2 separate regions of the Homo sapiens genome follow, and region 1 is linked to region 2. The links come from fine-mapping of genetic effects on gene expression. Tissue or cell type: nasal epithelium. Region 2 holds a variant in brackets; the other region holds the start of a gene. All regions are shown on one strand. Distances are from middle to middle.

Region 1 (8,157 bases), 50 kb after region 2:
TGGAGCCCTCATGACCTAAACACCTCACATTAGGTCCTGAGACAGGAATAATATAAGGTGGCTGCAGAATAATAGAAGATTTTGGGCAGCAATTTCACATGACTAGCAAAAGGAAACTGTTGAAATGGCTGCAGAGGCCATGGGCTAAGACCGTGAAAAACAGAGTGTAGACCAAGCTGGCTAAGACCCACTGAACCCAGCATGGCACTGGATTTGACCTAGGTTTCTCCTAGGACCTCATTATACGCTCATTAACATACTAAATCACACACCCCACTAGCATCATGACACTTCCGAGAACACCCATATTTGGTTTAAAAATAGGTGGTGTCACAGTTCTGAGAAATCTCCTTCTTTTTCTAGGAATGATCATGAATATTCTGCCTCTTGGTTAAAGAAACCCGTAAAGGTAGCAACCCCAAACCCCCTTTCGTGTGAGTCTCTCGAGTACACCCATATTCCCTTTTCTTGAGTGTGTACTTTTCCCTTTGCAATAAATCGTACTTTCACTATTTTCCAACTGGTCTTTGAATTCATTCTCTTGATGGTGTCAAGAGCCTGGACACTGGCTGGGGTCTAGGTCCCACTGGCATTTGGGGACCTCCCCTCCAACACTGTTGCACTGGGGGTTAAACTTCCAACGTGTTTTTTTTTGGAGGACACATTCAAACCATGGCAGTACTGAACAAAACCTTGGCTTTGAAACCATATGAAGATTTGTTTTGTGTGTGTTCACATAGTTGAAGTATTTCAACATTTTTAAGAGGGATTTTCAGGCTTCTCTATAAGCAGACTAAGAATCAGCATTAGCATGTTTTCTCCATGTACAAAGTCTTTTATCTTTCTACTTACAAATGAAGGTAACCAATAAATATTTGTTGAATTTTATCATTCTGTTAACCTTCAGATTCAGACTTGTCAGTAATTACTGGCTTGCATTAAAAGCAGGAGATTAGAGATTGAGGTCCAGGAAGTATAAATGATTTGCTCAAAGGCATGTAGAGTAACCAGGTCTCCTGTCCCTCTGTCCCCCTTTTCTGCTACACCTTGTCCCTCGACAAAGGGTGAATGACCTAGTGATGGTCATTCATCTGAGGAGAAAGGACAAAGGTAGGACTTTGAATCGGAGCAACTGAACCCATCCTGGCCTATTTTCACAGTCTTGCCACAGAAGATCTGGCCACCTTAGAAGGACTCATTCAGTGATCTTGGTCTTGAATAATACCATGAGTACTTACTATATACAGGTACACTGCTGTGCCGTAAGGATTCCCTCTGGAGCAAAACTGACCCAGGTCACAGGTTAGTGAGGGAGACTGAGCCTGTCTTCCACAGTGTCACGGAAGTGAGCACTAAACAAATACTCCCAGGCATGGATCATTACAAATGGAGGTGAGTGCTGGACAGGAAAGGACAGGATGCTAGGCGAGAATTCAGCAGGAGGGCTTGGTGGCGATTAGGGGGCTAGGGAAAAGCAGAAGTGGGGCTGTAAAAGGCTTTTGCAAAGATGAAGGCTTTTACATTTGTGAGGGAAATAACAATAATAAAGGTGCTTGGAAGGGCTGCTCATCCGCATTCATGGGCCTCTTCCTAGAACTCTGGGAATCTTTCTCCCTAGAGCTCTGTAGGCGTCCAGGGTCAGGGCTGGAAAGGCCTTCACAAATGCTAATCTGTGAGCATTTTATGGGTTGCCCCCTGACCCTCAGCATCCTCCTCCTTAACTAGATCCAATGGTGAGGTGAAGAGGTGGGGGCGATGGAGAATGGCATTTCCAGTTTGGAGAAAAAAGTAGGGAGAGGCGGGGAAGCCTTCCCACCCCAATCCCAGGGCCAGGTTCCCCTCTCTCCAAACAAGCCTAAGGAATGTTTTTCAAGGCAAAATCCCACCTCACTGTGTATTTGGTTGTGAAGGGGGCTGTCCAGGAGATCAGGGTTGTTTTTGGAGAGTTTGGAGGGCAGGGGCAATAATGTCTGACCCCCTGCAAACAAATACACCTGTAAGAAAAGCTAGACCAGAGTGAAGTAAAGCCAGGATTTGATGGTGGCGGGAAGGGAAGGGGCCAATGCTGCTGCTGGACAGAGGGGTGTTATTTTCCCCAGAAGAATAGCATGTCGTGGTCATCATCATAATAATAGCTGACACAACTATTATGGGCTGGGGACTTATAAGAGCTTTCATAACTCTCAGGTAGGAGGCACTACGAACTCCATTTCACAATTGAGGAAACTGAGGCACAAAGAAACGAAGTAGTGACAGCAGCTTTCCTTTTTCCCTTCAACAGTTTGGAATCAAGCTGTTTGAGCCGAGGCTGGGTCTCAGGAGGTGTGGACAGCACTTCCATCTCGGTAAATCAGATTCGCCTGCCCATAACTGGGGAGAATGGTGGCTTTGAAAAGGTTAACTTGGGAGCCCTGGGGACGGCTGCAGGGAACGTACGCCCATTCCCCCTAGGAAGCAGAGCCAGGCCGCCTCCTCCTCCGCAGTGGTGAGGACGCGTGGACAGTCCCGCGGGGGCGGCGGGAGACCTGCGGAGTGGCCGCACTCCAGGTCCGCGCCAAGGCCGGGCAGCTCCGCTTTCTGCTCAGTCTCCGCGAGGTGTCGCCTTCGGCCGAAGAAACCACCGCGGCGCCACCCTCGTAGCTCGCACTTATTTATTTATTTATTTTCAAACAAGGGGGGCGCCCCTCTTCTTTCAATTTGAAACTGGAAACATCCAGAGGTCTTGTTCCTAAGGGGGCGCGTCCTCTCCCTGCTATTTTGCACCTTCGGACTAGCCTTCTTTCGTAATTACACAGGAGCAACCTCCCTGCAAGGCCTTGCTCAACGTTGGCCTCGCGCTCAGCTGCACAACACGCAGTCAAAGCGGGGGCTGGGTTAGAAGCATCGGTCTCCCCTCCCCAACACACACCCCCGGAGCCCTCCGTAATTTTTTTTTCTTTTAATGACAAGCAATTGCCAGGCTCGCAGGGTGGGTGCTGCATTGCACCGCTCCGCGCGCAGCTGGTTCTCAGAGTGCAGCCGGTGCAAGCCCGGGGGTCCAAAAGGGCGGGAGGAGCACACCCTGGGCTTCCCAGCTTTGCAGCCTTCTCTCTGCAAAGAAAAGCAAGTGGCTTTTGGCGCGAAAGCCTTGGCGCCTCCCCTGATTTTTATGGAAATCAGGAGGGCGGGGTAAAGCCGCTTTCCTCTCCTTTCTCCCTCCCCCTTGTCTGCGCCACAGCCCCCTTCTCTCCCCGCCCCCCGGGTGTGTCAGATTTTTCAGTTAATAATATCCCCCGAGCTTCAAAGCGCAGGCTGTGACAGTCATCTGTCTGGACGCGCTGGGTGGATGCGGGGGGCTCCTGGGAACTGTGTTGGAGCCGAGCAAGCGCTAGCCAGGCGCAAGCGCGCACAGACTGTAGCCATCCGAGGACACCCCCGCCCCCCCGGCCCACCCGGAGACACCCGCGCAGAATCGCCTCCGGATCCCCTGCAGTCGGCGGGAGGTAAGGAGCAGGGCTTGCAAACCGCCCGGCGCCCAGGGAAGCGACGAGCGCCGGGGCAAGGCAAGCCCTGGACGGGATTGCGACGTGCGCACCGGGCGCCCTAATATGCCCGGGGGACTGTTTCTGCTTCCGAAACAAAACCATCTCTGGGTTTTCCCAGAAAAGCCAGTTCCAGCCCCGAAGGCATCCTGGCTAGAGGAGACCCGCCCTAATCCTTTTGCAGCCCTTACCGGGGGGAGTAATGGCTTCTGCGAAAAGAAATTCCCTCGGCTCTAGAAGATCTGTCTGTGTTTGAGCTGTCGGAGAGCCGGTGCGTCCCCACCCCAGGCTGGGGTTCTTCTCCAAAGGGTGCCCCTGGAGGAAGAAGAGGGGGGGATTAGGCAGGGCGAGGCCGCCGCGGTCGCAATCTGGGTCACGGCTGCTCCAGCTTGGAGGAGAGGCGGCTCTCCCGGCGACCCTCCTCGCGCGGGCGCCCCTGCCATTCCCGGGAACAGGGGCTCAGCCTCTCCCTCCCTGGAAGAGGACGTTGTCGTGGGTTTGGAAGAGCAGGGGTGGGCTTAGAGAGCTTCCAATTAAGCTATTGGCAGGAGTATCCCTGCAGCGGGTGAATGCCGAGGGGCGTTTGCTCAAATTTGGGGAGGGGAAGGATTTGTGGATATGGGTGTCTGTTGTTGGTCTCTGTCTAGAGAAAGGCTTTTTTTTATTTGCAAAGTTTTCTAAATCCCCTGCTATCATTTGCACTCCTGAGGTTGCATTTTTACAAAGGGGGTAGAAGGTACTCCAAATACCATTCCCGGTAGCTGGGTCGGAGAGCCTGGGGCTTCCCCTGAGCAGCCGGCCCCACACCGCTGCGAGTGCGGTTGTCTGCGTGCTCGTGAGAGCTAGAATTCTGCAGCCAGGAACAGCCCCCTCCCCCAGGCAGTGCCTTGTGTGAATGAAATGGCAGTTTCCAAAGTTGCGGAGCCTCGCCACCACCCCCTGCATCTGCATGCCCCCTCCCACCCCCTGTCGTAGACAGCTTGTACACAAAAGGAGGGCGGGAGGGAGGGAGCGAGAGGCACAACTTCCTCCACCTTCGGGAGCAGTGGGCAGAGTGGGGGGCTTGGAGGGAAGATTGGGGAACCTGGTTAGAGGGGGCGCCCATTGCCTATCCCCTCGGTCTGCCCCGTTTGCCCACCCTCTCCGGTGTGTCTGTCGGTTGCAGTGTTGGAGGTCGGCGCCGGCCCCCGCCTTCCGCGCCCCCCACGGGAAGGAAGCACCCCCGGTATTAAAACGAACGGGGCGGAAAGAAGCCCTCAGTCGCCGGCCGGGAGGCGAGCCGATGCCGAGCTGCTCCACGTCCACCATGCCGGGCATGATCTGCAAGAACCCAGACCTCGAGTTTGACTCGCTACAGCCCTGCTTCTACCCGGACGAAGATGACTTCTACTTCGGCGGCCCCGACTCGACCCCCCCGGGGGAGGACATCTGGAAGAAGTTTGAGCTGCTGCCCACGCCCCCGCTGTCGCCCAGCCGTGGCTTCGCGGAGCACAGCTCCGAGCCCCCGAGCTGGGTCACGGAGATGCTGCTTGAGAACGAGCTGTGGGGCAGCCCGGCCGAGGAGGACGCGTTCGGCCTGGGGGGACTGGGTGGCCTCACCCCCAACCCGGTCATCCTCCAGGACTGCATGTGGAGCGGCTTCTCCGCCCGCGAGAAGCTGGAGCGCGCCGTGAGCGAGAAGCTGCAGCACGGCCGCGGGCCGCCAACCGCCGGTTCCACCGCCCAGTCCCCGGGAGCCGGCGCCGCCAGCCCTGCGGGTCGCGGGCACGGCGGGGCTGCGGGAGCCGGCCGCGCCGGGGCCGCCCTGCCCGCCGAGCTCGCCCACCCGGCCGCCGAGTGCGTGGATCCCGCCGTGGTCTTCCCCTTTCCCGTGAACAAGCGCGAGCCAGCGCCCGTGCCCGCAGCCCCGGCCAGTGCCCCGGCGGCGGGCCCTGCGGTCGCCTCGGGGGCGGGTATTGCCGCCCCAGCCGGGGCCCCGGGGGTCGCCCCTCCGCGCCCAGGCGGCCGCCAGACCAGCGGCGGCGACCACAAGGCCCTCAGTACCTCCGGAGAGGACACCCTGAGCGATTCAGGTAAAGACCGAACTCGGGTCCGGCTGCCTCCCTGGGGCACTGGACCCCGGGTCGCGTCCCCTTTGTTAGTGCTCGTATGTCTTGGCCTGGGGAGCATTTTGGAGGCAGTGCTAGGGGCAGAGAGGTCCTGTTTCCCCCAAGTCTCTCCTCGGGGTAAAGAGAAGGGGCTGAGAGAATGCCGTTGCAAAAGGGGTGCTCTCCAATTCTCGCCTTCACTAAAGTTCCTTCCACCCTCTCCTGGGGAGCCCTCCTCTAGGCCATCACGGGCCCTCACCCGGTCCCCCACCTCTCTTTTGCAGCGCAGTCTGAGGAATAAAATTGGAGAAAGTTGGTGGCTAAACCGGGTGGGGGTTTAGGGGGTTGCTGGGTGCACTGCCTGGACAGAAACCTGTTAGCGCAGGGGTGAAAGGGACTCTCTGGCCCAGGTCAGGGGAGGGAAAGACATCCCGAGAAGATTCAAGGGCTGTGCAAAGCCCTGTTTAAGGCGCAGGAACTTATAGGAGGGTTGCACAGATGGCTAGAGCCGATTTTCTATTCTTTTTCTTTTTCTTTTTTTTTTTTTTTCAAATGTCGGTACCTTTCCCTTCCCCCATCCTCGGTGGGTGGTGGGCTATTTGCTCCTGGTGCGTGGCCAGCAGGCGGCGATATGCGAGGCCAGCAGGCGGGCCCGGGATCTGAAAGGCTGGGGGTGGTGGGGGCACCCTCCCTCCCTCCATTCAGCAGCTGGCTGCAAGTGCAACAGCAGTTGTGTACATTCTCAGGGGGCCTCCTCTTTCCAGTGTGCAGTGGAAACTGGCTGTAGTTTTGTCTTCCAGCCTGAATTCCAGGCCTAATTTGAGATGTGAGTTGTATCTGTAACCCAGTGCCCTTGAAGGTGAGGGCAGGCACTCAGCAGCCTCTCCAGGAAGGCTCACATCCTGGGAGGACTCACTGATTAGTTCTATTGTGTTCATTTGTCTGTGTCTTAAGCTGAAGGGAAGAGTTAAAACCAAGCCTTTCCCTGGGGGTCTGGATGAACAGAACTCAACCCAAAGAGTGGCATTGCCTTGTCCTTGGAGCAGGGAGCTGGGACCCCCCTTGGACTTTGAAAACCAGTGTTTTCAGAATGCAGGTGGATAACAAGCCTAAATTTACTTCTGGGCTGAGGAGAGATCTTTGAGGCTCCTGGAAGGAAACTTGGTGATAAGCCTCCAGTTTGAAACGGCTCTGTCCCTTTAATGTCTGTGCCTTGACAGCTTTTGGTGAGGAAGCACTTCCTTCCAACAGCTGTCTTCTTGGCAGAAAACCAAAACATTGGCTTAAAGGGACCCACAGACTGGAACAGCCTCACATTTCGGCTTTAGAACAAATCCCACAATTGTTCAGCTTTCCGGTCCCCTTCAGATCAAGCAGAAGATATGTTTTGATTTTCATGCTTGTATTTTAAACAATAATTTTCTACCCCAGCGTGGTAGTCAATGAGGAGAGAGGGGAAGAATGCGCACATGATGCTACACGTTTCTGTTGTTGCTGTTATTATTGGTGGCTTTGAGGAGAGCTGCTCCCATTTGGGGGTTTATACCAACTGTGGATTATGGCTTTGTCATTAAGATTTGATCTTTGTTAAATGAAAAACTGTTTATTGTATAAAACTCAGGTTTGTGGACGAAAAGTTGTTTTTTTTCTTCAGTTAATTAAATTGTTCCTCAAGTTTGTTTAAGGACTTAAAATCAAACACAACCATGTGTAAACTGCTAAATGAGGCTCCTAAAATGAGAGGCCTCAACTCTTTAAGTGTGGAGCTAGAAATGTAAATAAGTCCACAGGGCAGACTGGTGATTATGATAAAAGCTACCATTTACTGAGCATCTGTCTACTAGGCTCAGCTCTATGCTAAGTCTACATGTTATCTGTCAAAGTGGTATCATCCCCATTTAATAGCTGAGGAAACAGAGGCTTAGAAAGGCTGGGTAACTTGACCAGGGTCATGCAACTAGTCTGCGGTGGAGCCAGGATTCTGTCTGACCCTAAAGGCCAAGTTCTTTATATTTATTTCTACCACCTGCTAAAGTCTTGAATGGAGGCTGAAAGCACAGTTGGGGTATGGGGAAGAAAAATATATATACATACATATATGTATATGTATGTATGTATGTATGGGGGGTTGTTTTGTTTTTGTTTTTGATAAGGAGTTTTGCTCTTGTTGCCCAGGCTGGAGTGCAGTGGTATGATCTGGGCTCACTGCAACCTCCGCCTCCCGGGTTCAAGTCATTCTCCTGCCTCAGCCTCCCGAGTAGCTGGGATTACCGGAGCATGCCACCACACCCAGCAAAGTTTTGTATTTTTAGTAGAGACAGGGTTTCACCATGTTGGCCAGGCTGATCTTGAACTCCTCATCTCAGGTGATCTGCCCGCCTCCGCTTCCCAAAGTGCTGGGATTACAGGTGTGAGTCACCGCGTCCGGCCTACAGATATATTTAATTTAAAGAGATCTAAAACAAATACAAAACTGTCCACATCTATGTTGATGGACCCATAAAAATAGCAGTCTGCCAGGGTCTGCCGGAAGAGACAGATAAGCATAC
Region 2 (8,190 bases):
ATGATGGGAAATCTTAGAGGGTATTAGTGTCCCTTTTCATCCTATGTTATTATTTATTACATCTTTGTGGCCAACTGTATTTTGCAAAAATGGCCAAAGCAATATTTTCAGTCTCACATGGTTGTCCAGAAACTTGCTACCCCCTATCAAAAGTTAGAATCTGGCCGGGCGTGGTGGCTCATGCCTGTAATTGCAGCACTTTGGGAGGCCGAGAAGGGTGGATCGCCTGAGGTCAGGAGTTCGAGACCAGCCTGGCCAACGTGGTAAAACCCCATCTGTACTAAAAATACAAAAATGAGCCGGGCGTGGTAGCGCATGCCTGTAATCCCAGCTACTTGGGAGGCTGAGGCAGGAGAATTGCTTGAACCCAGGAGGTGGAGGTTGCAGGGAGCTGAGATGGCGACATTGCACTCCAGCCTGGGCGATAAGAATAAAATTCCACCTCAAAAAAAAAAGAGAGAATGTATTTTCCCTCCCCTTGAACATGGGTGGGACATTGTGACAGCCTGTGGAATAGAGTGTGGTGGATGTTAGGTTCATGATTTCTGAAGCTAGTTCATAAAAGACAATATAGTGTCCACTAGGATGTGTTAGGATGCTTATCTTTGAAATCAGCCACCATGCTGTGAGGGAGCCCAAACTAGCTCACACGCAGAATCCCATAGGGAGGAACCGAGATCCCCAGCCAACAGCCAGCATCAACCACCAGACATGTAAGAGAACAAACTTTAGATGATCCCAGGCCATGTACTTGAGTTTCCTCCTAGTTAAGACATCATGGAGCAGAGCCCTTCTCTGCTCAGCTTGCTAAGGAGGATGCAGATAACAGAGTCTCTTACCTCTGTCACCTGCCTGAATTTCCAGTCCACAAAATCAGCACACAAATGGTTGCTTTACATACTCACTAAGTTTTGGGGTAATATTTGATGCAGTCATAGAAACTGGAACACTCCCCCACTGAGCCACAGACTTCTTGAGGAGAGAGACTATTTTTTTCCTCCTTAGCAAGCTGAGCCCAGGAGCCCTCAGGGTCTGGGTCGTGACCAGTCCTTCCTTAAGGACATCCACCTCCCTTTCTGTCATGTTAGAGTGCCTCTATGCTCTGGGAGGCCTGGACTTCTGAGATGCGCAATGTTTGTAATTCATTGATTCTGTCAACAAATATTTATTGAATATTGGGGGCAAAATGCTAGGACCGAGATAAGAACAAGCCAGACGGGGTGACTGCCCCCGGGGGCTTACAGTCTAGGTGGAGGTGTGGGGGGGAGATTACAAAATGAATCCAAATTGTGATGCTTACTGTTACAGGAGGAGCACAGGGGCCCTATTTGGGTAGAGTGGCTGGCAAAGGCCTCTTCGAGAGAGCGACACTGACTCAGAACGATGAGCGAGCCTCAGGCAGGGTGGGGACAGGCGTGAAGAACACTCCAGGTGGATGGGACAATGACCGCAAAGGCTGTGAGCAGAAGGAACTTGGGATGTTTGGGGAAAATGAAAGAAGGCAAGTGTGGGCCGGGCGAAATGGAACACGCCCGTAATCCCAGCATTTTGGGAGGCCGAGGTGGGTGGATCACCTGAGGTCAGGAGTTTGAGACCAGCCAGGCTAACGTGGTGAAACCCTGTTTCTATTTAAAAAATACAAAAAATTTGCTGGGCATGGTGGTGGGCACCTGTAATCCCAGCTACTCAGGAGGCTGAGGCAGGAGAATCGCTTGAACCTGGGAGGTGGAAGTTGCAGTGAGCCCAGAATACGCCACTGCACTCCAGGCTGGATGACAGAGTGAGACTCTGTCTCAAAAAAAAAAAAAAAAAAAGAAAAAAGGCAAGTGTGGGAGCCTGGTAGGCCAAGGCAGGCTGGAAGCCAGAGATGTGAGAGGGGTGGGCTGTGGCCTGGTAGGCCTCGGAGAATTGCTTGAATTTTCCTCTAAAGGCAGTGGGGAGCCATAGGAGGCTTTCCAGCACATTTGTTTCACTTTGTGAGTTGCCAAATAGCTCCTTGGTCTCACTTTCCAGCACTGGCTGTGCCCAAGCAGAGTGGTGACGGGGCCCCCTGTCAACATTTGTGTTCCCACAGGTCCTTGGTGGGAATGAGGAAATGCTGAGTTTGGTCTCTACAGAGGACACATAGAAGGCAGCCCTCACCTGTGAAACAGACGCACAGGGTAGGCTGGGTTGCCAGGACAGGCAGCATTGGATCTGAGTTACTGGGGAGTGGCCAGTCTGTGGCACATTCTCTCTCTCTTTCTCCCTCTCAATCACACACACACACACACACACACACACACACACACACACACACACACAGCCAAAAGTAGCTAAACAAGAGAAAAGGAGCCTCTGAACAAAGCTGTGGCCTCCGAGTGCCATATCCTTTCTCGCTTAAAAAGCCCCTGGCCCCTCACTGAGAGCTTGCCTGCTCTTACTTTGTGCCAAGCTCTGGCAACCCTGGTTCTCTGCAGTGAGACGCCTGAGGGTTCCCCACACAGGGCTGTACCTGCCTCTCCAGGAGCGGTTCATGCTCTCGGGTTACTTATACTCAGTGTCCCTGGATTAAGAAAGTAGGACATCTGTAGCACGTTTTATAATTGTTTCTATTCAAAATGGATAAGAGAAAATGTTGGTGTTTAAAGCAGCAATAATAAAGATGATGATAACAACCCGTGTTTGTATTTCTTGGTGCGTGCTGTTTGCAGGCACTGTATTCATCTATGACATCCCTGCCACAGGCCCCCGAGCTCTCCAGCTGGGGCAGCTCTCTGATGGAATGCCCCTCTCCTTTAGCGCCCTATCTGCAGGCACACACACACACACACATATACACACACACGCAGCTTCCCAGGAGTGTTCTCATGGATGCACACAGACGCTCCTTCTTACCCTTTCTGAACCCCCCCAAATACAATCCACGTTCTGTGGGAGCAGGAGCTAGGGAGCAGCTGCCCATGGCCCTTTCCCTGCAGGGGCTATGGATGTCAGGAGTGTGATAGCCTCAGAGCCATCCCTGGCATCTGCTTCACTCCAAGGGATGGTGGCCGGGCTGGTAGGAGTGGGGCTTGGGTGCTGCCCCTCGCATACTGTGTGGCAGTCTGTCGGCTCATCTTCAGAGTGTGGTCCCCGTCCCAGCTGTTGCTGCCTGAATTGTGTTTTCCCACGCCCAGGCCTGCCCAAGCTGTCACCAGCTGTGACCAGCTGTCAACCAGTTGTTAGTACTCTGCTTCCCTCCCTGCCACGTGACAGCACTCATCGTCAGCTAGACCCCAGAGGAGTTTTCCGACAGGCAGACTGATAGGCAGATGGCACTCAGTGCCTGAGCACCCTGCAGTCAGGGGGACACCCATGGCGAGACAGCCGTGGAGGTGAGCCAGAGAGACAAACACCCAGAGAGACAGGGATGGAGGCGGGATCACAGAAAAAGAGATCAACCAGAGAGGAGCAGAGCGGCATATGGAGACGGAGAGAAAGCGTGCATGCGTACACACACACGTACACACACACAAGAGAGAGAGAGAGAGACATAGGGAAGGAAGGCCATCCTGGCCAAACAATGTAGCAATAACTCGTTTTCTATCAACTGTGGATCCCGGGAGCCACGGCACCAGGAGTGTTGCTAGTCTGCAGCCCCAATACTCAAAGGGTGGTCCCTGAACCAGGACCAGCAGCATGAGCGTCCCTGAGAGCCTGTTAGAGCCTCGGGCCCACCCCAGGCTATCCGCATCTGCATTTTTACAAGAGCCTAGGCGGTTTATATGCACATTAAGCATTAGAAGCCTACTCCAATCCGAGCTGGCCTCTTGGCTGCAAGAAGTTTGAAGCTGACGTGTGCAGCGTGTACACTTTCTCTCCTGAGTTGTGAACTGAGCCTCAGGAGAAGCCACAATGAAGGGGTGTTCTCTCTGGCTCTGAATAAAGACCAAGGAAGGGGCCTGGCAGCCAGTGTGCTGCCAACTCTGCCCCTACCCTGCCATCCTGGCCCGACCCCCGCCATCCTGCTCCCGCTCCTTGCTTTTGCCCCCACGGTCCTCTCCGTCTACCATGCTGTTGTTTCCTCTTCCAGAAGATCCAGTACTTTGCTTCCTTCCACACCCAGTCTCGGGCTCACCAAGGCAGGAGGCCTTCTTGGGCAGACCCGGAAGATAAAGCTGTTCCCTCTGCTCCCACTGTAATGACAGTCACAGTGAGAATCGCCACCGACAGGCAGCATGTTTTCCACATTCCCAGGCTGCTTTGCTGATTTTTCTCACTCAACTCTCACAGCTGAACCAAATGAAGCCCTATTATTATACCCATTTTACAGAGGCAATCATCAAGACTTAAAGGGTGAATCTGTCCTTCGTTCAACAAATGTTTAGGTGTTTCCAAGTATGTTCCAGTTTAGGGGACCAGCTAATTGAGGAGCCCCACCCCCATCCAGGCTGCAGCTCCCAGATGGTGGACCGCAGAGGCTGGAGCAGGCCATGTGCAGAGGAGGGGGCAGGAGCCCAAGAAGCGTCAGTTGCCTCGCCAGAGATAAGGTTGCTTTGTTCTCCAGGCTGCTTCCTGCACTG[G/A]GGAATTCCATTCTGGCCTGCAGGCAGGTGGCTGCCTCCTCAGTTCTTGCACAATCGGCTCTGAAACATCTAGAATGACAGTTATTATGTATTTATGAACTCAGGATCTTTATGGTTTCACAAACTAGGTCTCCCCCTGAAAGAACCACCCATCCCCAGCTCTCAGTCTTAGCCCCCCAAAGGGCCCGCTCTGCCCTCAGTCTGTCATTGCCTGAAGCTGGGCAGGGTGCAAGCGTTCCCCACTGGAGACCTGCAGGGTGGCCCTGGACAGAGAGATAGGAATGCCAAGGGACGCCCCTAGCCCTGGGACCCGCAGGCCTGGGGTGGAGAGAGAAGACACCTCTTATCCTCCTATCATCTGGGCCTCCTAAGCCAAGTGGCTTTACCCGTTTGGAACTCAGTTTTGCAGGCTGTAAATGCGGACAATGGTCCCAGCACTGCCTACCTACCGTGCTAGGGGATTCTGAAGAATGTGAAAATTCTAAAGTGCTGAACACATGGCAGGGCAGTTATCCTGATTCCTGTGGGGCAGGGACAGCCCCCCGCCACCCTCGCTAGAGAAAACCACTTCCAGTTTTTATCTTGTAGATTATATAGGCAGCCATTGCTTAGGGAACAATTTACATTATACTGATCACAATTTCCACTTTTGAAAAATCTTGCTCCTTGTAGAATTTTCTACTTTCTTGTTATTAAGAACAGGCCCTAGCTTGCAAGTGGGAGCTCAATGTAATCTTTAGGGATGTAGTTTGAAAGCTAGAAATGTATGGTAATGAAAAGACCTTTATTACTAACATTTCTGCAGGAAAAATAACTTTATTTTTGCTGGTCTGACACTCTCACAAAAACAGTTACTTGTAGAATATGATTTCTGAGATTTCATATTAACATCTTGCTCCTGATTTTGCAGAACAGCCTTCTTGGCACCCCTCCCAGCAGCCCCATGAGGTAGCTACTGTCTCCATTCTCCTGCTAAGAAAGCCGAGGCCCAGACAGGAGATGTAACTTAGCCAAGATTGCATAGTTGGTAGAAAGGAAGGAATTTGAAGGCAGGACCGTGGGTCTCCAGAGTGATATTTTCCACTGCAATGCTCAACCCGTTCTCTTCTGTAGAGAAGGATCCCTTCACGGCTTCACCCCGATAAATACCAGATGACACAGACAAGCAGAGGTGAGAGAATTCTGTCAACTGTGAAGTCCTACATGTAGGTCAGAGCTTTTTATATCAAAGCTCTAATTTATTACGAGTCATTTAGAGCTTGTTATTTCCTTCACCAACAGAGCCTTGCTTTTACAGAAGGAACCACCGCAGGGTTCCTTGAATAATGAGTGTTTAAGATATTACTAAACACAACTTTCCAGAAGCACAATCTGCCGGAGGGAAGTGAGGGGCACTTTGGGCAGGGAAGTGAAATCTCTGGAACAGTGGATTCTGCACAAGCAGAGGAGACCTACTGAGACCTACTCAAAAGGACAAATGCTTTTGGTTACCCCAGCCTGTTTACAACCCTGCAGCACCAGCTCATTTTTAAAAATCTGTATCTGGCTGTCGGGCACAGTGGCTCATGCCTGTAATCCTAGCACTTGGGGAGTCTGAGGCAGGTGGATCGCTTGAGCTCAGGAGTTCACGACCACCTGGGGCAACAAGGCAAAACCCCGTCTCTACTAAAAATACAAAAAGCTAGCCAGGCGTGGTGGTGTGCATCTGTAACCCCAGCTACTGGGGAGGCTGAGGCACAAGAATTGCTTGAACCCAGGAGGCAGAGGTTGCAGTGAGCCAAGATTGTGTCACTGCACTCCAGCCTGGGCAACAAAGTCAGACTTTGTCTCAAAAAATAAAACATAAATTAAAAATAAAAAATAAAAAAAAAAAACCTGTATCTTATTTATCATCACTTATAGTAAATGGTGTTTATGGTAGGGTCTAACAGAGTTATTATTCCAAGGACACTCAAAAAGTTTTCATAACCTGCCCAAGGTCCTATCTGCAAGCATCTCTTAATAGTCAATGCACAACAATATGGTCTAGCAATTCTACTTCTTGTGTATACACACAACAGAATGGAAAGTAGGGACTGAAACAAATATTTACACACCTATGTGCATAGCAGCATTATTCACAGTAGCCAAAAGCTGTAAGTAACTCAAATGTCCATTAACAGATGAATAGATAAACAAAATATGGTACGTACATGCAATAGAATATTGTTCAGCCTTTCAAAAGGAATTACATGCTAATTACATGCTGACACATGCTATAACATGAATGAACCTTGAAGACATTATGACAAGTAAAAGAAGCTACACACACACACACACAAAGGCAAATACTATATGATTCCACTAATATGATGTACCTAGAGGAGGCAAATTCATAGAGACAGAAAGTCAAAAATGTTGGTTGCCAGTGGCTTGGGAGAGGGGAGAATGGGAAGTTGTTTTTTAAATGGGTATGGAGTTTCTGTTTGAGAAAATAAAAAAGTTCTGGAGATGGATGGTGGTGATGGTTGCATAACGATGTGAATGCACTTAATGTCACTCAACTGTACACCTAGAAATAGAGAAAATGATAAATCTTACGTTATCTGTGTATTACCACGATGCAAAAGCAAAGTCAATGTATAATCTGAATAATAATTCATCTGCCAACTTTACAGATGAAGAAACTGATGTTCAGAGTGGTTAAGTGACTGCTCCCAAGTCAAAAAGCCAGAATCAAAGCTGGGATGCAAGCCAAGGCTTTCTGACAGGTCTCTCTCTGCTTCTGCATGCTGCTTCTTGTCTGAATGCCTTAGTGGCCTCTGCATGGCCTTTGGTGAAAGGATTTTGTTTCTTTTGCAGAAAACAATCATTGAAAGGCATTTAGCCTTGGATCATTAGTTAGGAGCTGCCTCTGGCACAAATTTAGTGCGGCCTCAGCTTAGGCCCTCCCCAGTCTGCACCTCAGCTTCCCCATCGGGCAATGAGGTGGCTGCATTGGTGGTCGGCTTCCAAGGGCACATCCAATCCCCACATTCCATCACTCTTTCATACCACATAGCCTCTCAAACAGAACTGCCTTTAGAAAGAAGCAAAATTCATACGTCAATTATAATTCCCAGTTCTTCTTAGTTTCAATTTCTGCCTGTTGCCTCGTATCATGACAATTTCACCCTCTTGAATTTGCAGAAGTGTGCTCATTTGGTTGATATGCTCACCCTACAAATTCCCCAACCACGTTTTGTTTCGGCAACAGTTGGCTTCAGACCTCATAGTCAGAACTGCCTCTCGTAAATTCTTTATGACTGTTTGGTTTGAAACCTGCAAGGTAAAATCGTCTGAAGGTTATCAAGATTGATACTGCAGGCTTTGTTTTGAAGTCACTCAGTGGGGACAGTTATATGTATCTTATTTTAAAACTTGCAAAGCAAGATCCCTAATGATTTGTTTGTCTCTGCTTCAAAGCTTTACATATTTCTTTTGTCTATTGTCTGATAGGGATTCGTCTGTGATTTAAAACAAACAAACAAACAAACAATTTAGTTGAATTTTTTTTTTAATTCTAAGTGTAGGACCAGCACATGAAAAGTGGCTGACCCAGCAGGATGGGATAAAAGAATAACTCTTACAGAGTGTTTAGGACTTGATCCGTAGAAAGACCACACTT

Evidence for each region. PIP is the estimated chance that this variant, and not a neighbour inherited with it, causes the effect.
Region 1: MYCN starts here. The variant in region 2 is fine-mapped to the expression of MYCN in nasal epithelium (TOPMed, PIP 0.97).

Annotation. Positions count from the first base shown.
Region 1 is chr2:15,937,262-15,945,418 of GRCh38, forward strand. It overlaps MYCN (MYCN proto-oncogene, bHLH transcription factor), which reads left to right and starts at 3,289. Exons shown (of 3, transcript NM_005378.6): 1 at 3,289-3,482; 2 at 4,687-5,593. The coding sequence starts at 4,804. It overlaps MYCNOS (MYCN opposite strand), which reads right to left and starts at 4,424. Exons shown (of 4, transcript NR_110230.2): 1 at 4,271-4,424; 2 at 3,713-3,836; 3 at 1,239-1,464. RefSeq lists enhancers at 1,285-1,842, 2,887-3,417.
Region 2 is chr2:15,886,821-15,895,010 of GRCh38, forward strand. No RefSeq gene overlaps it. Among named protein-coding and RNA genes, the nearest start is that of MYCNUT, 29 kb to the right of the region's middle. RefSeq lists an enhancer at 3,538-4,159. The variant G/A (reference allele first, on the strand shown) is at 4,545.